Regions from separate parts of the Homo sapiens genome. Here all the other regions are linked to region 1. Evidence: fine-mapped expression QTL. A gene starts in region 1. Each other region holds a variant in brackets. All regions are shown on one strand. Distances are from middle to middle. Region 1 holds the start of SECTM1 (secreted and transmembrane 1). Region 2 holds the start of FSCN2 (fascin actin-bundling protein 2, retinal). Region 3 holds the start of TEX19 (testis expressed 19). Region 4 has its middle 12 kb from the start of LINC01970.

Evidence for each region. PIP is the estimated chance that this variant, and not a neighbour inherited with it, causes the effect.
Region 2: its variant is fine-mapped to the expression of SECTM1 in whole blood (TOPMed, PIP above 0.99).
Region 3: its variant is fine-mapped to the expression of SECTM1 in whole blood (TOPMed, PIP above 0.99).
Region 4: its variant is fine-mapped to the expression of SECTM1 in whole blood (INTERVAL, PIP above 0.99).

Annotation. Positions count from the first base shown.
Region 1 is chr17:82,331,827-82,336,968 of GRCh38, reverse strand. SECTM1 (secreted and transmembrane 1) reads left to right here and starts at 3,203. Exons shown (of 5, transcript NM_003004.3): 1 at 3,203-3,269. RefSeq lists enhancers at 1,780-1,849, 3,897-4,699 and a silencer at 4,576-4,860.
Region 2 is chr17:81,523,930-81,529,071 of GRCh38, reverse strand. FSCN2 (fascin actin-bundling protein 2, retinal) reads right to left here and starts at 695. Exons shown (of 5, transcript NM_012418.4): 1 at 1-695. The coding sequence starts at 540. RefSeq lists enhancers at 1-246, 247-773. The variant G/A (reference allele first, on the strand shown) is at 2,136.
Region 3 is chr17:82,354,535-82,359,676 of GRCh38, reverse strand. TEX19 (testis expressed 19) reads right to left here and starts at 430. Exons shown (of 2, transcript NM_207459.4): 1 at 392-430. RefSeq lists an enhancer at 2,853-3,788. The variant G/T (reference allele first, on the strand shown) is at 2,104.
Region 4 is chr17:82,302,291-82,307,432 of GRCh38, reverse strand. No RefSeq gene overlaps it. Among named protein-coding and RNA genes, the nearest start is that of LINC01970, 12 kb to the right of the region's middle. RefSeq lists enhancers at 3,548-4,048, 5,136-5,142. The variant TG/G (reference allele first, on the strand shown) is at 2,506.

The DNA.
Region 1 (5,142 bases):
GCGATCCCCCTAGCTCCCCCACAGAGGGTGCTGCACCTGCGGCCCCTGCGGAGGTACTGGCTTGGCCAGCCCGGGAGGAGGGGCCCAGCCTGTTGGGACAGGAGATGGGGTGCAGGTGGAAGGCTCCAAGAGGCATCTGGGCTGGTAACGCGCAGACATCCCAGGTGGGTTGGAAGTGGGTCAAGGAGGCCTGGAGGACCCGGTGCCTGTGGGGGTGGCAGGCGGGCCACATCCTCCACTAGAACCCGAGGTGGCGGCGGGGTCAAGGATGACGAGTTATCTTCGGGACATTAGGAGGAAGCCCCACAGGCTGCAGTCACGTGGGTGGGCAAGGATGAAAGGCAAGGGAACCCAGAGAATCAAGTTACAAAGAAAAGCAAATGCCGCCAGCACAGTGGCTCACGCCTGTAATCCCAGCACTTTGGGAGGCCGAGGCGGGTGGATTGCCTGAGCTCAGGAGTTCAAGAAAAAAAAAGCCTGGCTAACATAGTGAAACCCGTCTCTACCAAAAATAAAATAAATAAATAAATAAAAGCTGGGCGTGGCGGCACGTGCCTGTAGTTCCAGCTACTCAGGAGGCTGAGGTAGGAGAATCGCTTGAACTAGGGAGGCGGAGGTTGCAGTGAGCCGAAATCGCACCACTGCACTCCAGCCTGGGCGACAGAGCAAGACTCTGTCTCCAAAAAAAAGAAAAGCAAATGCTCCAGGACCTTGGGGATTTTAAGAATATGCTGCCGAATAATTTGGAGAGTTAAACAGAAAATCATAACTGAAATCTACAAATTCCTCGAACAGAAAGGAAATGAAACTCCACATGTCACCTGGCACAGCAGAGGCTGTGATTCAAGGACAGGCTGAGGGTGAATGAATCCACACATCCGCTCTAAGATGCCTGATCCCAGCATTGTATAGAAATGGAAAGATACGGCCGGGTGCAGTGGCTCACGCCTGTAATCCAGCACTTTGGGAGGCCAAGATGGGCGGATCACAAGGTCAGGAGATCCAGACCATCCTGGCTAACACGGTGAAACCCCGTCTCTACTAAAAATACAGAAAAATTAGCTGGGCGTGGTGGCGGGCGCCTGTAGTCCCAGCTACTCAGGAGGCTGAGGCAGGAGAATGGTGTGAACCCAGGAGGCAGAGCTTGCAGTGAGCCGAGATTGCGCCACTGCACTCCAGCCTGGGCGACAGAGCGAGACTCCGTCTCAAAACAAAAAAAAGAAATGGAAAGATACTGCCCAGATGTGGTGGCTCACACCTGTAACCCCAGCACTTTGGGAGGCCAAGGCAGGCGGACCACCTGAGGTCAGGAGTTCGAGACCAGCTTGGCCAACATGATGAAATCCTATTTCTACTAAAACTACAAAAATTAGCTGGGCGTGGTGATACATGCCTGCAATCCCAACTACTCAGAAGGCTGAGGTGGGAGAATCAGTTGAACCTGGGAGGCAGAGGTTGCAGTGATCGAGACTGCAGCACTGCACTCCAGCCTGGGCAACAGAGACTCCGTCTCAAAAAAAAGAAAGAAATAAACGTGAGTGGATGGCTGTGCTGTTTGTATGGACCAGGAAAACTTCTAGAAGGATAGGTAAGGCAGTGTCCATAACTCAACCTGGGAATTGAAGCCAGGGTGGGGAGGAAAAGGCAACAGTTGGTTTCATTCTATTTTGTTTCTGTGCCTGTATTACTTCCAAAATAAACAAACTAGTTTCACTTTCACAACATGAAATGCTTTATCAGGATATGCGTTTTCCTCCAACCCCCAGTGGTGTCCCCTCACGGGACAAAAGCCTGCCAGCCTTCAGCTGCCCTCCAGAGCCTCACGGTGCAGGTGCTCCTGCCTAAGCAGCCGGACCCCCCTGCCCCCAGGAACTGCAGCCCCCTCTGAGTTGAGAGATCTAGTAGGCAGGAAAAAAGGAGAAGGAAGCTGTGGCTGCTGGGGGATGTGGCCTCGGGGACAAGCCCCTCTGTGCAGAGGACGTGGGCAGGTGGGATTTCAGCCCCCTCTCCAGCATCTCACTGGCAGCCAGGGTGGCTGGGGTTTCCCCGAGGGCGGGGGCTGGGGAATCTGACCTCTGTGCCCCGGCCATGGTGCCGTCTTGCTGGGAGGATGACAGGCTGTGTTTCACCTGCCAATTTGGCGACAGTTTCTCTTTTGGAACATCCCGGGGGACTTTGTTCTGTGCCACCCACCTCTGGACCCTGGGTCTGATGGCTGAGCTGCAGGCTCCAAGGTTCAGCGTCCAGTCTGGCCCTGCTCCGTCCATTCCCCACATTTGAGGGTTTCCCGGAGTTTGGTTCTGCTTCTTCCTCTCTTCCATGAAACTGGGGGCATTGCCCACGCCCCAGTGTCCCCCATCATCTGCCCGGTGGGGACTTGCCCACTCACGTGACTGCAGCCTGTGGGGCCTCCTCCTAGTGTCCCGAAGATACCTGGTCATCCTTGACCCCGCCCGCACCTGCCCGCGTGCCCCCTCGGGTTCTAGTGGAGGACGTGGCCCGCCTGCCACCCCGCCAGGCGCCGGGTCCTCCAGGCCTCCTCGAGCCACCTCCTGCCCACCTGGGATGTCTGTGGGTTCCCGGCCCGGATGCGTCTTGGAGCCTTCTACCCGCACCCCAATCTCCTGCCCCAACAGGCTGGGCCCCTCCTCCCGGGCTGGCCAGGCCAGCACCTCCGCAGGGGCCGCAGGACGCCTGAAGGCCCAGGCCGCAGGTGCAGGACCCTCTGCGGGGGAGCTGGGGGACATCACTCCTCTGCTCTGCGCGCTTTTATGAAAGGGCCTCTGACCCTCCGGGGGTCCAGCTCACTCTGCCCGCGCACTCCCAGGCATCTGGGGGCCGCCCCCCGCCCTCCCTCCCCGCGGCCCACTCGGCCCGCCCAGCTCGCCCCGTGCACAGACTCGAGGCCTCCAGGAGCGGAGCCAAACAGCCCCGCGGGGAACGCGCGCCGCACGCGAGCTGGACCCGCCCAGGCACGAACTCTCCTGGAAAAATGCTCCCGGCGGCTTTCCTGCTTCCTTTAGCGTGAACCGCGGGTGCGGTGCCTCCCGTGAAAATAATAAATTCACCGTCACGCTTGTTGTGAACGCGGGTGGTTCCCGAAACTTGGAGGCTTCCCGTAAACCCAGCTCCTTCCTCATCTGGGAGGTGGGTCCCGCGCGGGTCCGCCGCCTCCTCCCTGGCCCCTCCCTCTCGTGTCTTTCATTTTCCTGGGGCTCCGGGGCGCGGAGAAGCTGCATCCCAGAGGAGCGCGTCCAGGAGCGGACCCGGTGAGGCGCGGAGAGGGGCGGGCGGGGGAACCAGAGGGGCGGGCTCGGTGCTGGGGACTCGGTGCTGGGGACTCGGTGCTGGGGACTCGGTGCTGAGGGCCCGGTGCTGGGGACTCGGTGCTGGGGGCTCGGTGTTAGGGCCTCTTGGTGCACTGGGGTTGCCGGTCCGCGCAGGGATGGGGACTCTGGGGCTGCGGCGCCTCTGCCTCTGGGACCGTCACCCCCCGCTGGCCCTGAGCGTGCGTCGCAGGCCAGGCGGGCGGGGTCGCAGCGGGCGTACCCGAGTATGGGCGGGAACGAGCTGCCGGCCGGTGTGGGGACCCGCGTCCCTGCCCTGTGCGCCAGGCTCGACTCTTGAAGGGACAGAGGCGGCGTCTCGGACCCGGGGCTCCCCTAAGTCCGATGGGTCGGAGCCCCCTCCTCCCTTCCCGGTCCTCGGCCTCACCCGGGGTTCCCTGCGCCGTCGCTGCGACCAAGCTGGGAGCAAAACGCACTCGCTCATATGCGTGCACACAAGCTGGTGGACACACGCACATGAGCACACGCAGGCACGCGTGGACTGTTGCACACTCCACAGCCACAGCCTCGTGTGCACTCACAGCAAACTCATGAAACAGGAACCGTGAGGCTTCCCTCACCCGGCAGGCCCTCAGCTGCCCGTTCTCACGCGGGTTTTGCTGACTCCGCAGTAATCACCACATTCAGTTCCTTGCCCACTACTGGTGAATCACCTGCAGCTTGAGAAGCACGTTTTCTGCCGGTGGTCAGCAGAGGATCCCCGGCTTCTAGGAGGCCCAGGGCGACCGGCTGCAGGAGCCCGCGTAGGAGGCCTGTCTCCAGCAGGGCGGGGGTGGTGGCAGGGCCTCTCCACGGGGCTGCTGCTGAGCCCAGAGCGGGAGGACAGGAGGCCACCAGCAGAGGGGACAGGTGAACAGGTGCTGAGCAGGAAGGGTTAGCCCGGTCTAGCCCCAGGCCTGGGGGGCTTTGCTGCTCACCTGGGGTCCCCTCTGGGCCTGGCTCAGCAGAGACCAGGGCAGAGCCGTCCACACCGTGGGCCTGGGTGGGGTCCATGGCCTCTGCAGGCTGCAGCTGTCTTCTGAGAGGTGTTGGTGTGCTCATTCTCGGTAGAGACGTGGGGTCACCTGTGTTCCCTGAGCCCCTGCAGCAGCTGGGAAAGCAGTGTCAGCCACCCCTCAGGTGCTGTGGGGGTACAGAGTCCACTGACCACACAGGAGGACCCCAATGAACCCAGCCCGAGGGGGCCGGAGCTTCCACACACCCAGCACCCATGGGAGCCGGGACAGGCAGGCGCCCGGGGCACCAGGGAGCGGGAACAGGCATGCGCAGGCGTGCTGGGCGGTGCGTGAACTTTCCTAGGCGTGTCACTGGCATGGCTCCAAGCCTGCGCATCATCGCTTGTCAGGGAGCACTCAGACCCTGCCGTGTCTGGTGCCGGCGCCTCAGATACCGACCCCTGTGTTCGTGGTTTGAGAGAAATCTGATTGCCGCCTCCATCTTTTCCCGCTCTAGAAGTTTGTTTTTTGTTTTGTTTGGTTTGAGACGGAGTTTCGCTCTTGTTGCCCAGGCTGGAATGTAGTGGCCAGATCTTGGCTCACCACAACCTCCACCTCCCTGGTTCAAGCGATTCTCCTGCCTCAGCCTCCCAAGTAACTGGGATTACAGGCGTGCACCACCACGCCCGGCTAATTTTTTTGTATTTTTAGTAGAGACGGGGTTTCACCACGTTGTTCAGACTGGTCTCAAACTCCCGACCTCAGGTGATCCACCTGCCTCAGCCTCCCAAAGTGCTGGGATTGCAGGCATGCGCCACCGCGCCCGGCCCACTCTAGAAGTTTTGAGGCTCCGTGCGCCT
Region 2 (5,142 bases), 810 kb after region 1:
CCGGAAGATGAGGGTGAGGAGGGCGTCCACGCCCCAGGGCTTGTCTCCGTCTGCGGCCATCTCGTCCTCCCGCGGGCACAGGTGCACGTAGCGCCGCCGGCTCACGCTCAGCAGGTGGGCCTGCGGGTGGATGGCCAGGTGCACGGTCCACAGCTCGGCCGGGGAAACGGCTGTGGCGAAGCAGGACAGCTGGTCCTCGGTGCCTCCGAAGAAGCGGCCGTGCGGCTCGGACCGCAGCACCCAGCGCCCATCTGGCTGCGGCAGGACCAGGAAGCGGCAGTCACGGCCCGGCTGCTCTGCCTCACAGGCCACGCGCCCGTCCTCTTCTGCCGACAGGTAGCGGCCCAGGTGGCTGCTGCGGAGCAGCACAGCCGTGCCTTGTCCTGGGTCGGGTTCCAGCACCCAGGTCTGCTTCCTCTTGAGGCTGGGTGCCGAGGCATTGACCTTGAAGCCGAAGCTCTCAGCTGTCAGGTAGCGGTCAGTGTCGTTGACGAGGCCAAACTGGATCTTCAGCACCTGGTGCAGGCCGTTCGTCGGCATCTTCAGGCTGGCCGGGTCCCCGGAGGGGCCTGGGATGCGCCCTCTGAGTGCTCACGGCCCCCGCGGTCCCCCAGAAGCCCGGGTCGGCTCGGCTGGCCCACAGCCCCCAGACCCAGCCGGCGTCACGAACCCCCTGCCTGCTCTGACCCGCCTCTGACCCGCGGCAGCAGCCTGGGCAGCTCTTAGAGGGCCCGCGGGCAGCAGAGGGCGGGCGGGGAGGGCGGATCAGAGACGTGCGGCTTAGGAGCAGCACCTTTCATTACCCTCAGCTTGGATTTCAGCCACTCCCGGATTGCACAGAGCCCAGAGCCCGAGGGCCTGAGGGCCTACGGGGCTGGAGGGCAGGGTTGATCCCCTTTTCCTCATAGCGTGGGCCCAGCGCCCCTCTTCACGGCCCTGCACCTTTTGGCCTCTCTCGTTCCTGCCCCCCTCCTCCAACCCCGTGTGGGCTCCCGGCCCGGCCCGGCCCAGCCCTTCCGGATGTAGAAGCCGTCCAGTGGAACGCTCACGGCTCGGCCGCAACCTGATCGCCGCCCGTACCCTCGGTGGCCGCCAGGCCCTCAGCTGGATCCAGTTACTGCTTCTCTGATTCCTGCTGCCAGAAGCATAGCAAGGACCCCAGCCACAACCTGCAGCCCAGGTCGCCTCCACCCCAGACCGGCCTCTGGCCACACTGCTCAGGCCCCAGAATGACGCACTGGACTGCCACCCACGCTGGAGGGTGGAACACAGTGGCCGTGCAGCCCTGCAGGCAGGGGGCAGAGTCAGAGGCCCTGGGCCAGGCTGGCCCGGCCCCAGCGCACTCCTGTGCGCTCTGAGCAAGTTGCTGGGCCCTGAGGCTGCCCCCTCCTCTGCTGTGAGCTGGAGTGAAGCCAGCCTCACTTCACTTTGGAGTCTTTACGGATGTGGATCCAGGAGGCTGGTGGGACGATGTCCACCCCATGCTCCCAGCGGTGGCCCTTGGAATCTGGGAGAGGATGAAGGCCAGCAGGCCGGGAGAGACTGGAAGTGGTCACACCTGTCTACAGCACCTCCTTGCTCTGGGCCACCTGGCTGTACCCCTTCCCCAGAGCCTGAGGGGCACTGGGCCCTGCTCACCGTGCCTGGCTCCTGCACCTGCCTCAGGGGCTTGGGGCCAAGTAGTGAAACCAGAGCTGGCCACCCTGGGCCAGGGCCAGCCCGGTGTCCTCTTCCTCATAACAGCGTGTGACCCTCCCGTCTCCCTGGGGACTGGGAACAGGGGCCACAGGCCCCTTCCGGTCATGGCCTGGAGTCACTCCCCTGTCCTCCTGGGCCCATCTCCTGAGTGGCCATCATGGGGGTCCCCGTAGGGCAGGAGTCTAGCCAAAAGCAAGGGGCCTGGGCTGGGCACCTGTGGGCTCCAGAGGTGGGCAGGGCCATGGTGGCAGAGTGTGCACAGACTCAGGGGCTCTTCCTCTGTCCTCTAAGCCCTGGACAGCAACCGTGCCAGGCACCTGCAGACACAGGGGAGGAAAAAGAGGAGACCTGTCCCCACTGTCCCCACGCTCAGGGGCCAGGGTGGGGGCAGAGAGACTCCCACATGCAAATACCCCCCAGGGCACAGCGTACGCCAC[G/A]ACGCCAGGGCCTGCTCTCGCCTCTCCCTGTGTGCTGGCCTCATCCGCCTCTATGATTCACACGCATTTATGAGGCACCAACTGTGTGCGAAACCAGGTCACGTGCCAGGCACCATCCTGGGGAGACGCAGTCTGGGGTTTCACCCCCTTCCCAGAGACGATGCCCACACACACTCTCCCACAGTTTCCAGGGGACTGAGGACACAGGCCTAGCACCGATGCCAGGGAACTGTCTCTGGTTTAGGGATACAAGCTAGGGTGCTGCCTGCACCTCACTTTCCCATTGGCTCTTCTTTTTAAAAAACTTTTTTCTTGAAATAGGGTCTCGCTCCTCACCCAAACTGGAGTCCAGTGGCGCAATCTTGGCTCACTGGAACCTTCGAGCTCAAGCAGTCCTCCTGCCTCAGCCTCCCAAGTAGCTGGGATTACAGGCACTTGCTACCGTGCCCGGCTAATGTTTGTATTTTTAGTAGAGATGGGGTTTCACCATGTTGCCCAGGCTGGTCTCGAACTCCTGACCTCAAGTGATCTGCCCGCCGCGGCCTCTGAAAGTGCTGGGATGATAGGCGTGGCCACTGCGCCCGGCCTCCCGTTGGATTTTGAGGGTACAGCTCGGTTGGTCCGTGAGCGGTGGGGGAAGCCGGAGGGGCAGCTGTGCCCATGGTCCCCCCCACCCCAGGCACAGACACTGGCTTCACCTCCACACCCCAACGCCCAGCCAGGCTGAGGAGGAGCCCAGGCGGCCTGCCCCTCTGATTGGCACGACGGCCTCATTAGCGCTGTCTGGGCTGGCAGGGCGCTTAGGCATCGGGTGCTCAGCAGGGGGAAGCCTGGCCGCCCGGCACTAAGTGGGCCTGGCTCTGGGCAGCCTCTTGGTGGCAGAGCCAGAAATGATGGCGGCTCCTCAGTTCTAGGGCCCCACAGCTCCACGTTGGGTGGGGCTGCCTGGCACTGACCCAGCTGTGTGAGCTAAACAGGGGAGGGTGACTGAAGGGTGGGCGCCTGGGCCAGGCTTCCTTGGAGGGAGGCCGTTTACAGGGATTCCAGCCCCTCCTGCCTCCACCTCAGGACCCCAGGCTGTTGCCCAGCCACCTGCTAGGATCGCTTCCTCTGGATTCTCAGCAAAATTTCTGGCACACAGCAGGTACTTAATAAGTGCCTGAGATTGTTGGATGTCGGGAGTCTGGTTATTATTAATTATTTTATTTTTTTCAGACAGAGTCTCACACTGTCACCCAGGCTGGAGTGCAATGGCACAATCTTGGCTCACTGCAACCTCTGCCTCCCAGGTTCATGTGATTCTCCTGCCTCGGCCTCCCGAGTTGCTGGGATTACAGGCGCCTGCCACCATACCCAGCTAATTTTTTTTGTATTTTTTAGTAGACACGGGGCTTCATTATGTTGGTCAGACTGGTCTCGAACTCCTGACCTTGTGATCTGGCCTCCTCAGCCTCTCAAAGTGCTGGGATTACAGCCGTGAACCACCAGGCACAGCCTTTTTTTTTTTTTTTGAGACAGAGTCTTGCTCTGTCGCCCAGGCTGGGGTGCAGTGGCGTGATCTCAGCTCACTGCAACCTCCACCTCCCAGGTTCAGGCGATTCTCCTGCCTCAGCCTCCCAAGTAGCTGGGACTACAGGCGCCCACCACCACGCCCCGCTAGTTTTTGTATTTTTAGTAGAGATGAGGTTTCACCATGTTGGCCAGCATGGTCTCAAACACCTGACCTCAGGTGATCCACCTGCCTCGGCCTCCCAAAGTGCTGGGATTACAGGCGTGAGCCACCGTGCCTGGCCGTCTGGTTCTTTTTATTTATCTTAGAGACAGGGTTTTGCTCTGTCACCCAGGCTGAACTGCAGTGGCGCTATCTTGGCCAGTGGCAGCCCCGAACTCCTGGGCTCCGGCGATCCTCCCACCTTGGCCTCCTGAGCAGCTGGGACCCCAGCACAGGGCCGGGTTCTTGTATGATGGGCTGAGCCTCTGCCCATGGGTGCAGCGTTGTGCATGTGTGTGAGTGTGGTGTGTGTGTGTGTGTGTGTGTGTGTGAAGGTGCTCATGGATGAGGGTGGGCAAAGGTTGCCAGAAGAGTCGCCTGCTGGGCCAACTCTGGACCCTGGGACTGTCATCCTGGATCCCAGCCTGAGAGCCTACTCAGGGCTGCCCAGCAGGGAGCCCAGGTTGTACACTGCCCAAGGGAGGCTATTTCCAGGGTCCCACTCATACTCCAGACATACACAACTCACAAGAGCATATGGTGGGCTGGGGCACTCTAGCCCCCTGCAGTGTTCTCAGGCAACAGGAAGCACCCCTCCCACTGACCCTCACCAAGCCCTGTGGCCACACCTCCGGAGGTGCCAACCAACCACTCACATGGGATACACACGTGCCTGCCACCCTGACCTGTGCAGGCTGCACTGTGGCGACATTCAAAGGCGCTGCCACACTGAGGGCTCCACGCCCCACCCTCGCCCACCTCTGAGGCTGGTGGAAGCCCCTGCCCAGTGTGTGCCTGAGGCCCAAGCTGAGGTCTGCACCTGGGAGGGGGTGCCTTGTCCCGGTGGGCAGTGAGAGGCTGTTTGGGGTAGCAGTACCCCCAGCCCCCTGGTCCAGGGAGCAGCCAGCTGTGACAGACTTCCTGGCCTCACCTGAGCCCAGAGGGCAAGGAATGCCTCAGCCATCAGAATCCCCTGGCAGCCTCCCGAGGCCTGAGCCTCGGCCTCCATCCCTCTCAGTGCGGGGCCAGCTGGGCAGGACCAGGAAGCCATGCGCCCCCACCGGCACCTGGTGTCCACCCTCAGGTTTCCCGAGAGCCCTTAGGAAATCGTTCCCTTTCTGAGGTGCTGGTGGACGGGCTGTCCTGGTGCTCCAGGGTCCCCCTTCCCCTCCCCGAGTTGGCCCGTCTGGTGCTCCAAGGGGAAGGACCCCAAGCCCCCCATGCCTAGACCACTGATCCTGGATGCTTGAGCCCAGCCTGGGCTCCTGCTGGCACGCTGTCTGCTGCCATGGTGAC
Region 3 (5,142 bases), 23 kb before region 1:
GGAACCTGAGGGAAACTGGGGGAACCTGAGGGAAGCTGAGGGAAACTTGAGGGAAACTGGGGGAACCTGAGGGAAACTTGAGGGAAACTGAGGGAACCTGAGGGAAACTGAGGGAAACTTGAGGGAAACTGAGGGAACCTGAGGGAAACTGAGGGAACCTGAGGGAAACTGAGGGAAACTTGAGGGAAACTGAGGGAACCTGAGGGAAACTGAGGGAAATTTGAGGGAACTTGGAGAACCTTAGGGAACCTGAGGGAAACTGAGGGAAATTTGAGGGAAACTGAGGGAACCTGAGGAATCCTGGCCCCGCTTCAGCCTCCCAACCCCTCACCCAGCACCAGGCCGTGTCTCCGAGACCCCTCCTCAGAGACCCCTCCTCGGGAGATCTCACCATCCTGGTGTCTCTGTTCATGTGGGCACCCAGGGAAAGGAGGAGGCAGAGCCCATTTGGGTATATAAAGGGCCATTTCCCATGGTGCTCTGGGCTCATCTGCATATCTCCCATGAGCCTCAGTTTCCAGGAAATGAAAGTGCTGAGTCACCAGCTCCCTCCAAGGAGGGCCATGTGCAGCCCCTGGGCACCTGCAGGAAGGCCCTGGAGAGGCAGCTCCTCTGGGGGCTGGAGATTGGGGTGGGTGCTCTCCGTCTGCAGGCTGGCACAGGGTGAGCATCCAGCCTGTGGTTGCTGGCCCGTCGTGGGCACGACGTCCTGGTCCTGCCGCGTTTGTAAAACGTGATCCCTGCTTTGCTGTCTCTGTCTTAAAGTTCTCTGAATTTTAAGAACCAGCCAATTGTCAATTAGTTATTGTTTAAACACATTTTCCCCTTTGTGGTTCATCTCTTCGCTCTTTAAACAAGACGCTTATAAATTAACACTTGTTTTTTCAGTAGACTCTATTTTTTACAGCAGTTTTAGGTTCATAGCAAAATTGAGCCAAAAGCATGGAGCTCTCCCACCGCTCCCCTGCTCCTGCAGGTGCACAGCCTTCCCCAGTCCTCCCGTCCCAGCCATTTGTTACACGTTGTTATTATCATCATCGCCCTCTGCAGTTTCCATTATGCTTTCCTCCGGTGCTGTGCATTCTGCAGGTTTGGACACATGTATAATCATGCAGACCCACCACTCTAATATTGTACAGACGGGTTTCTCCGCCCCGATTCATCTGTGTTCTGCATTTTCATCACTCCCTCTCCCAGCCCCTGGCAACCAGGAATCTTTTGACTGTCTCCTTAATTTTGCCTTTTCCAAAATGTCACAGAGCTGGACTCATACATTATGTAGCCTTTTCAACTTCTTTTTTAGTAATACGCACTTTGGTTCTTCCATGTCTTTTGTGGTTTGATAGTTCACTTCTTTTTTTTTTTTTTTTTTTTTTTGAGACAGAGTCTTGCTCTGTCACCCAGGCTGGAATGCACTGGTGAAATCACAGCTACTACAGCCTCAACCTCCTGGGCTCCTGTGATTTTCTCACCTCAGCCTCCCAAATAGCTGGGACTACAGGTGCTGGTGCACACCCCGATAAGTTTTGTATTTTTTGTGAGACAGGGCCTCACCATGTTGCCCACACTGGTATCAAACACTTGGGCTCAAGTGATCCGCCTGCCTCTGCCTCCCACAGTGCTGGGATTACAGACGTGAGCCACCTTGCATGGCCAGCTCACTTATTTTTTAACACTGAATGGTATTCCATTGTCTGGATGTACCATGGTTTATTTATCCATTCACCTATGGAAAGACATCTTGGTTGCTCCCAGGTTTGGGCAATTATGAATAAAGCTACTACAAATATTCATGTGCAGGTGTCTGTAGACATAAGTTCTCAACTCATTTTGGTAAACTCTAAGGAGTGAGATTGCTGGATGCTGTGGTCAGAGTGTGTTTAGTTTTGTAAGAAAGTGACAAATTGTCTCACACAGTGGCCCTGTGGGAGGAACCCCCAAACCCTTTCCCTACATCCCCATGACCTCTGCTCCTCCCCACCTGGCAGCTGTCTGTGCCTGGCTCAGGTCATCCACACACCTGGGGCTGCCTGCCACCCCCACCAGGTTAGGGCTCAGATCAGGGCCACCCCTCACCCTGGGGCTTCCTCGTCCCAGTCCTGG[G/T]ATAGGGGCAGGTGTGGGGCTTTGGCTGCCAGGTGTCCTGCTGTGGGTGGAGAGGGCAGTGAGCTCATTCCCTAAAGACTCGGGTGCCTGAGCTGTCTGGCTGGTCCCCTCAGGTGAGAGGAAAGTAGTGGTTGAGGGACCCCACAGAGAAGCCTGTTTATGGGTCTGGGGGTCAGAGGCTCCCGGGAGGAGCCCCCAGGTCCTGGTTTTCTCTGAAAAGGCCACTCAAGGCCTCGGGGCTGAGCTGTGGCTGCCCTGGCCAGAAGGGGGCCGGGGAGGGAGCCCTGCACCTGTCGTGAACACTCAGGGCTGGGCCAGTGGGCGCCTGGAGGATGAGGTCCCTCCCACCTGGCCCCTCCCAGCCTCAGTTCTCAGGACACAGCCCAGCCGGCAGCTGCCAGAGTCACTGCCTAAAGGAGGTTTTGACCGAGGAGCAGCAGAGCCCTCTGAGGGCCCCTGTGGTAAGCAGGCTCCTCGCTGGTTTGCATGGCTTTTTCACACAGTAGTTGCGTCGAGAATTTAATATGCTGCGACCTCGTTGCCAGCAGGAGCGGTGTGGGACCGGGAAGCTGACGGGGAAGTGTTGGCGGGTGCAGGGCAGCGTCCACTCTGGGAAGCTGTGGCCAGCGCGTCCTGGCCAGCCAGGGCCTGGGCAGGGACTTGCCTCTCGGGCCTCGGCCTCACCCTGGTCTGAGAGTGTAGGACCCTCTCAAGGTCCTCAGTCACCTCAGCAGCCTGGGACGGAGCCTTTGGATCGCTTCCTGGGCAGCTGGGTACAGGAGAGGCCACTTGAGACAGATGTTGGGATGGACAGCTGGATTTGAGGCCCAGAGGGAAACCGTGGCAAGACTTGGTGGGTGGATGGTACCAGAGGAACAGGACGTGGCCATAATCGGGGAATCCAACACTCCTGTATCTCCAGAAGGACCAGGCATTTCCCCAGCTGCAGAGACCACTGATGGGGCAGCACAGCCATTGTGGGGCCAAGGCCATGACCCGGAGCCACTGGGGCCGTAAGCCTGACACCCAGATTGCCCACGAGCCAGAACCCCATCCCCACCATCCTGGGGTGCACAAGCTCTTGTGTTAGGAACGGGTGAAGAGGGGGAGCTCAGGAAGCTGAACGCAACCCAGAGGGGGTGGACAAGCAGGGACAAGGCTGCCAGATGGGCCTGGCCAAGCTCAGGGGCCCCCAGCTACCTCGGGGGTGCAGGTGCCAGCTGAGCCCTGCAGAGGAATGGGGTGAGGCCACGTCACGCTCTTTGAGCACCGGCTTCCGAGCTCAAGCGGCTTCGTCTCTGTCTCACCCAGAATGCCTCGCGCAGATCCGGGGCCCAGAGAACATTCCAGAGATGCTTGTGGAGTGGAGCAGCTTTAATAAGACACATTCTTGCTTCTCTGTTGGCTTCTTACCTGTGTCCTCGGGATGGCTGCCAAGGTGCTACCAACCTGCTGCATCCCTGGCTGAGGCTCAGAGCCTCCTGGGCTGGTGCCTTCCTGGGCACAGGATCCCCAGCAAGTCCAGGAATCTGACCTGAGGTCACCAATCATGCCCAGGGAAACCAGCCAGCCCCCAAAGCCTCCAAAACCCAAGTGGGCTTGGTTCTGTTGGCAGGTGACCCAGCTGGAATCAAACAAGAAAGAAAAGTGTGTTTAGATCATCAGGTGACTCACCAAATAGAACTTTCTTGAAAACTGTTTAATAATCAAGACCAGGAAAAGATTATGGAATATTCTAGCAAAGTCCAAGTACTTGGATTTTAAAATCAACATTTATCTTACTGCTCTTATATTACAAAGTTCCGCCCTCACCTCCAGTCTCAACGTTTGCACAAAGCATTTCAGCAGCACATGCAATGGCGTTATGGTTGGCTTTTCCCTCTCGCTCCTCCGCACAGCACTGAAGAAGGACAGGAGCAGTTTTCTTTGTTTCTTGCATGAATTTACTACTGAGGCTCGTCAGAGAGAGGCTGCCTGTGGGAGTGATGCATGGCCTCTGCTTCCACGGAGAAAAGCCACACGGTGGTGGCCAGGGGTGGGATGCGCCCGTGGACATGGAGGACAGATGTGTTCTGAGAAGCTGCCTGTTTCTTTTGTTTGTTTTTGAGATGGACTTTCACTTTTGTTGCCCAGGCTGGAGTGCAATGGCGCGATCTCAGCTCACGCCAACCTCCACCTCCCGGGTTCAAGTGATTCTCCTGCCTCAGTCTCCCAAGTAGCTGAGATTACAGGTGCCTGTCACCATGCCCAGCTGATTTTTGTATTTTTAGTAGAGATGGGGTTTCACCATGTTGGCCAGGATGGTCTCAATCTCTTGACCTCGTGATCCACCCGCCTTGGCCTCCCAAAGTGCTGGGATGACAGGCATGAGCCACCGTGCCCAGCCGAGGTGGCTTCTTTACAACAGACTATCCAGGGGACCACAGTCACCCTCCCCTCACTCCCAGCCCACCCTTCCTGCTCATTTGCTTTGTCCACCTACTCAGCTCCGTGGCCCATTGGTGGCCTCCATCCTTCTGAAGGACCAAGAAGCCACTGCCATGTGGAAGCACCTCCACGTGCCCTGGTCAGGTCTGTCACCAGTGCTGTGTGAGGATCAGAACACCCTCGACCACACTGGCTCATCATCCAAATTGTAATCATGGACTTAGAGGCTGTCCTTTTAAAAATAACTTTTGGTATTGTTTGCTTATTTCAAAGTAAACAAATTCATTATCAAACATTTAGAAAACAGGCAAGCAAATAAGAGGAAAGAACATCACCAGTCACACATTCTCCAGAGAGTGCAAAAAGCAAGGTCTCTGTATCTTACTCTCAAGTAGGAAGAATGGTTGCAGGAGAGGAAGGAAGGAGAGAGGGCCTGGGCGCTGTACCCGGCTGTGGCCAGCTCTGTCCTGAACCCTCCTGGGGTCTGTCCTGAACCCTCCTGGGCTCTGTCCTGAACCCTTCTGGGGTCTGTCCTGAACCCTCCTGGGGTCTGTCCTGAACCCTCCTGGGCTCTGTCCTGAACACTCCTGGGCTCTGTCCTGAACACTCCTG
Region 4 (5,142 bases), 30 kb after region 1:
AGCCTCCCGAGTAGCTGGGACTACAGGCGCCCGCCACCACGCCCGGCTAATTTTTTGTATTTTTAGTAGAGACGAGGTTTCACTGTGTTAGCCAGGATGGTCTCTATCTCCTGACCTCGTGATCCACCTGCCTCGGCCTCCCAAAGTGCTGGGATTACAGGCATGAGCCACCGCGCCCGGCTTCTTTTCTTTTCTTTTCTTTTCTTTCTTTCTTTCTCCTTTTTTTTTTGAGACAAGGTCCCACTCTGTCACCCAGGCTGATGTGCAGTGGCTCGATCACAGCTCTGTGCAGCCTCCACCTCTCAGGCTTACGCAATCCTCCTCCCTTAGCCTCTTGAGTAGCTGAGACTACAGGTGTGCACCACCACACCCAGTTAATTATTCTGAATTATTTGTAGAGACGGGTCTCACTGTGTTGCCCAGGCTGATCTCAAACTCCTGGCCTCAAGTGACCCTCCCATCTCAGCCTCCCAAAGTGCAATGATTACAAACATGAGCCACCACACCTGTAAACACACTTTAAACAAAAGGACACCAATAGGTTGGAAATAAAAGGATAGAAAACTTATGAGGCAGATAGGAACCAGAAGAAAACAAAAGTCATCAATCTTATGTTCTGACAAAATGGAACAATAGAATAAGATATAACCAGTATGAACACAGGTGAAACTAAAAATAAAGACAAAACATGCAAACCAGGAATGATATAGCCACAGAGAAAACCAGATACATCACCCATTTAAGCCCAAGCTTTTAATGTGCTCCTTCAGATCTAAGTCATGAATTAGTTAACATGGACCTCTACGCTTGTGAAACAGAAAACAGACACTAGCATCAGTGTACATGAAACCTTGTTTAAATGCTCATTTACTGTCATCAGGAACTAAGCAAGAAAATGAGAACGAGGCCGGGCGCGGTGGCTCACGCCTGTCATCTCAGCACTTTGGGAGGCCGGGGTGAGTGGATCACTTGAGCCCAGGAGCTCCAGACCAGCCTGGGCAACATGGCGAAACCCAGTCTCTACAAAAAATACAAAAATTAACTGGGCGTGGTGACGAGTGCCTGTAATCCCAGCTACTCGGGAGGCTGAGGCAGGGGGATATCTTGAGCCCAGGGTTTGAAGTTGCAGTGAGCCGAGATTGTGCCACTGCACTCCAGCCTGGGTGACAGAGCAAGGCCCTGTCTCAAAAAAAAAAAGAAGAAAAAGAGAATAAAAATTCTTAATTCCTCCACACCCAAAGATAACCATACTTGACCACACAGACAGGCAGGAAGCTGCCTCTGGGGGCTCACACACGGTGTGGTAACGGAAGCCCGCATGCAGGGCAGCGCAGAGGGTCGGGGGGAGCAGTCACTCAGCAGAGTGGATCACTTGTATTTTTGCTGCTTCGTCTTGCTGCCTGCTCTCTGGCCGCCTCTTCAGGTGGCCACAGTGTCGTGACATCATTTGTTTCCCTCCAGAGGCTCTGAGGGAGAACGGGCTCCAGGCCTCTCCCAGCTCCTGGGGCTGCCGGCGGCCCTGGCGTTCCCGGCTTGTGCCTGCGCCGCTCCAGTCTCTGCCTCCATCGTCACGTGGCCTTCTCCCAGGCCTGTGGTTTCTCTCTTCACATCAGGACACCAGCCGCGTGGGATTCAGGGCCATCCAGTAACCTCAACTGGATGACATCTGCCAAGACCCTGTCTCCAAATAAGGCCCTGTTCAGAGGTTCCAGGCGGACACGGATTTCAGGGGACACCATTCAATCCAGGGCAACATCCCTCTCTCAGACAGCTGGAAACAACATCCTCAGTCTCGGAGCAACTGCACAGCCATCAACATACCCCACTAAGCTAAGCCCAGCTAAACACCCCAGCTCAGTGTCCCTCAGCTGGGCCCCAGAACTGCTCCGGGCACCTGATGCCAGAGGAGACGGCAGTCTGGACCAACTGCTGTCAAAACAGCTTGAGCAAATTGTATACAACCCCAGCCGGGTGAGGACATTGCCAGGCCCCCTCCAGGGCCTTAAGAGGGCTGAGGTCTGTGGTCAGGTGCTTCAGGGTGAACAGGCCTCAGCGAGGTCCAGCCAGACAGGCTGCCTCGCGGAGCCGGTGGTGTGTGCGCAGCATCAAAGGCCCTGAAGGTGGGGTTGTTAGTTCTGTGTTGCAGGAGGGAGGGCGCCAGCACGGATCCCATGTCAGAGATCCCATCTGCCGCAGCTTCTCCAAGGGTCGACCGGGAACTCAGGGGCAGGACTGAGACCACCCCCGAGCCCCATGGCAGGAATTTCCAGCCCCCAGCCTTCCACATGTCCCGTTTTCCCTAGAGCCAGTGCTGGGCCTCCCCAGGCACGAGGATGCCCAGTTGAGTGGCAATGGGAGCTCCGGGCCTGAGTAACATCCTCAAAACCAAATGCCAGGTTAGGAGCAAAGCTGGAGCCAGGAGTAGGTTCTTGTTCCTCAGAATAAGTGACTTTTACACTCAGTCAACTTTTTCTTTTTCTTTTTCTTTTCTTTTTTTTTTTTTTT[TG/G]AGACAGGGTCTCTTTCTGTTGCCTGGGCTGGAGCGCAGTGGCGCGATCACAGCTCACTGCAGCCTCCACCTCCTGGGCTCAAGTGATCCTCCTGCCTCAGCCAATGCTGTTGGGAAAATGGCCTCAGAAGACAGGACAGGGAATCACTGTGGCCTGGGCAGCTGGAGTGGGGCCCGGGAGCTGGCGTTGGACATGGGGAAGAGAGGAAGGGAGGAGGGAGAGGGAAGGAGATAAGGGGGCAAGGAGCGGAGGGGTGGGGAGCAGGGGGAGGGGAGGGGATGGATGGGGCCGGGCCACCTCCAGGCTCGCAGAGTCAGCAGGGAGAACATGAGTCGGCTCCCACCAGGGTGGGTCGGCCAGAACCCAGCAGCCTGGAGGCGGGGAGCCTGGGGCTCTTGGTGCTCAGAGGCCAGAGGGCCTCAGAGGGCAGCTGGAAGAAGGGCGGGAGCCTTGTAGAGGGGCCCTAGCCTCCCCGTGACAGGGCCAGGTCGCATCTGCTCCTCTCTCCTCCCTTCCTCGCCTCCCCTCCACTCCCCTCCCCTTCTCTCGCCCGACAAGCCCCTCTCCCCCAGGGCTCCTTCTCCTTCCCACCCCCAGCCCCAGGGGCCCCCTCAGCCCCTCCACTTGCTGGAGTGGTGAAGGACAGTGGGGTGGGCTGACTGATGGGCGGCCGCCGGGCCGGGAGCTGCTGTCCCGCTGAGACTCTCAAGCTGCCCTGCATCCGGTGGGCAGCCTCCGGGACCCTCGAGCCTCCCGGTCTCCAGGCTGTGGCAGGTGGCTGGCCTGCTTGGAGACACCCCTGGGCCTGGGGCTCCTCAGGTGCCCCCCGAGCACATCCGCCTCTCCCTCAGGTTCAAGCCATCAGCTTCACCCCATTGTTTAATGCATTTAATCTTCTTGGGCTCACAGGGAGCCAGGGAGACCCAGCCTCTCCTTGAATAAAACCAAGCCTGAGCCAGGAGGAGGTGGCCCCGGTCAGGACAGCGAGGTCTGAAGGGCACTCGCCTGCCCCAGGTAACAATGATGGAGAAGGAGAGGTCCCCTCCGGAGAGACCTCAACCTCCCCTGCCCCACAGAAGTGGGGAGTCGCCACCAGGGCCTGTGGCCACAGCTGGATGAGCTCTTCAGAAGCTGTGCAGGGTGGAGGAGGGGCTCAGTGCGGTGCAAAGACCCACAGGACGCGGTGCCCCCCGACACAGGGACACAGGCACCAGAGGCCAGGGCCACCGCAAATGGCCAGGGCCGTTCCCACGCTCAGCCTGCCTACCCCAGGTGCTCCACACCGTGAGACCACACAGTGGGTACCCCTCCCCTAGCTTCTGGGGCAACAGCCTGCGCCGTCCTGTGCACGAACTCTTGGTGCTTCCTGAGTTGAAGATCAAAGTCCGCCCTAGACCACGGAGGAAGATGCCAGAAACCGGGGGAGGGTGAGGACGCTGTGGGTGCTGGCCACACAGCTGCCCCTTTCCTTCCTTACCCACAGACTGGGGGCTGCTGTGGGATTTGGGAAATGGCTCCCAGAGGCTGGAGCAGAAGGCCTGGCTCCAAGGCTGGAGTGCCTGGCCATCCGTGGCCATGGAGGGAAAGCCGCGGTGTAGAGGTGCGGAGCCGGCCAGACCCACGCCCCCAGCTGCTCAGCAAGCTCAAGCTGAGACTCGGGCCGGGGCTGACCGCTGGGGGCTGAGCTCCCTGATTCTCACAGTGGTCGCGGAGGCGGCATCCTGCCTCTGTCTCTCTTCTGCCACAGAATTCACCCCCGGAGCAGGGCTCCAAACCACCGCCCACCCCTGGCCTGGGGCCTCCAGCAGGCGCCCTAGCTACCTGGGACTCCTCCATCCATGACAGGACTGCCTGTCCTAATAAGACCCCTGCCTGGGTTTCTACCCCAGCAGCCCCTGACGGCCTCTGTCATGAAGGATGGAACTTCCCAGCCCTGCTAAAGGCTCAGCACCCGAAAGACCGCCTTCAGCTTTGGGCCCAGCCGCTCCCAGCCCCATAATGCAGGCCGGGAGAGGGTCACCCAGACGGAGGACGCCCCGCCTGCCTCAGGCCTCCTGGGTCCGTACGCTGGTGGTGACTTGGAAGAGGGCTTCTCTGGGGAGGGGCCCCAAGCCCCATGGAAGTGGTTTTGCTCAGGTCGGGGGCTGCATCCCCTCACCCTCCCCAGTCTCCCTCCCAGGAGCAGCAGCTGGCAGCCAGGTCCCGGGGCGGCACCAGGAGATGGTCACTGCCGATCCTGCCTGGCTGAGACCCCGGGCTCTGGGACCAGGCTGCCCCGCTCCCTGCATCCGCCCTCACCCCGAGCTTCAGAAACCTCAGTACAAGGGGGTGATCTGCAAAGGGACCTGGGCTTTTCCAACTCCCTCTCCTTGTGGCGGGTCCTAATTTCACGTTTTCTGGTCTTCAAAGTCCCAGCCTGGGAAGCCGAAGAGACCCACTTCTCTTTAAGGCCTTGGGCCTGGCCACTCGGCCGCCGGCCTCCCCAAGCACACCTCACACTCGGAGAAAGGGCCGAGCAGCCTGTGTGGGCGGGTAAACCGCGTTCCCACCAGCGCAGACACCACTTCCTACCTGCAGCGGAGGCCCAGTGCCAGCTGCTGCTTAGCTTCCCAGCGAGCCAGCCCCACCCAACCCC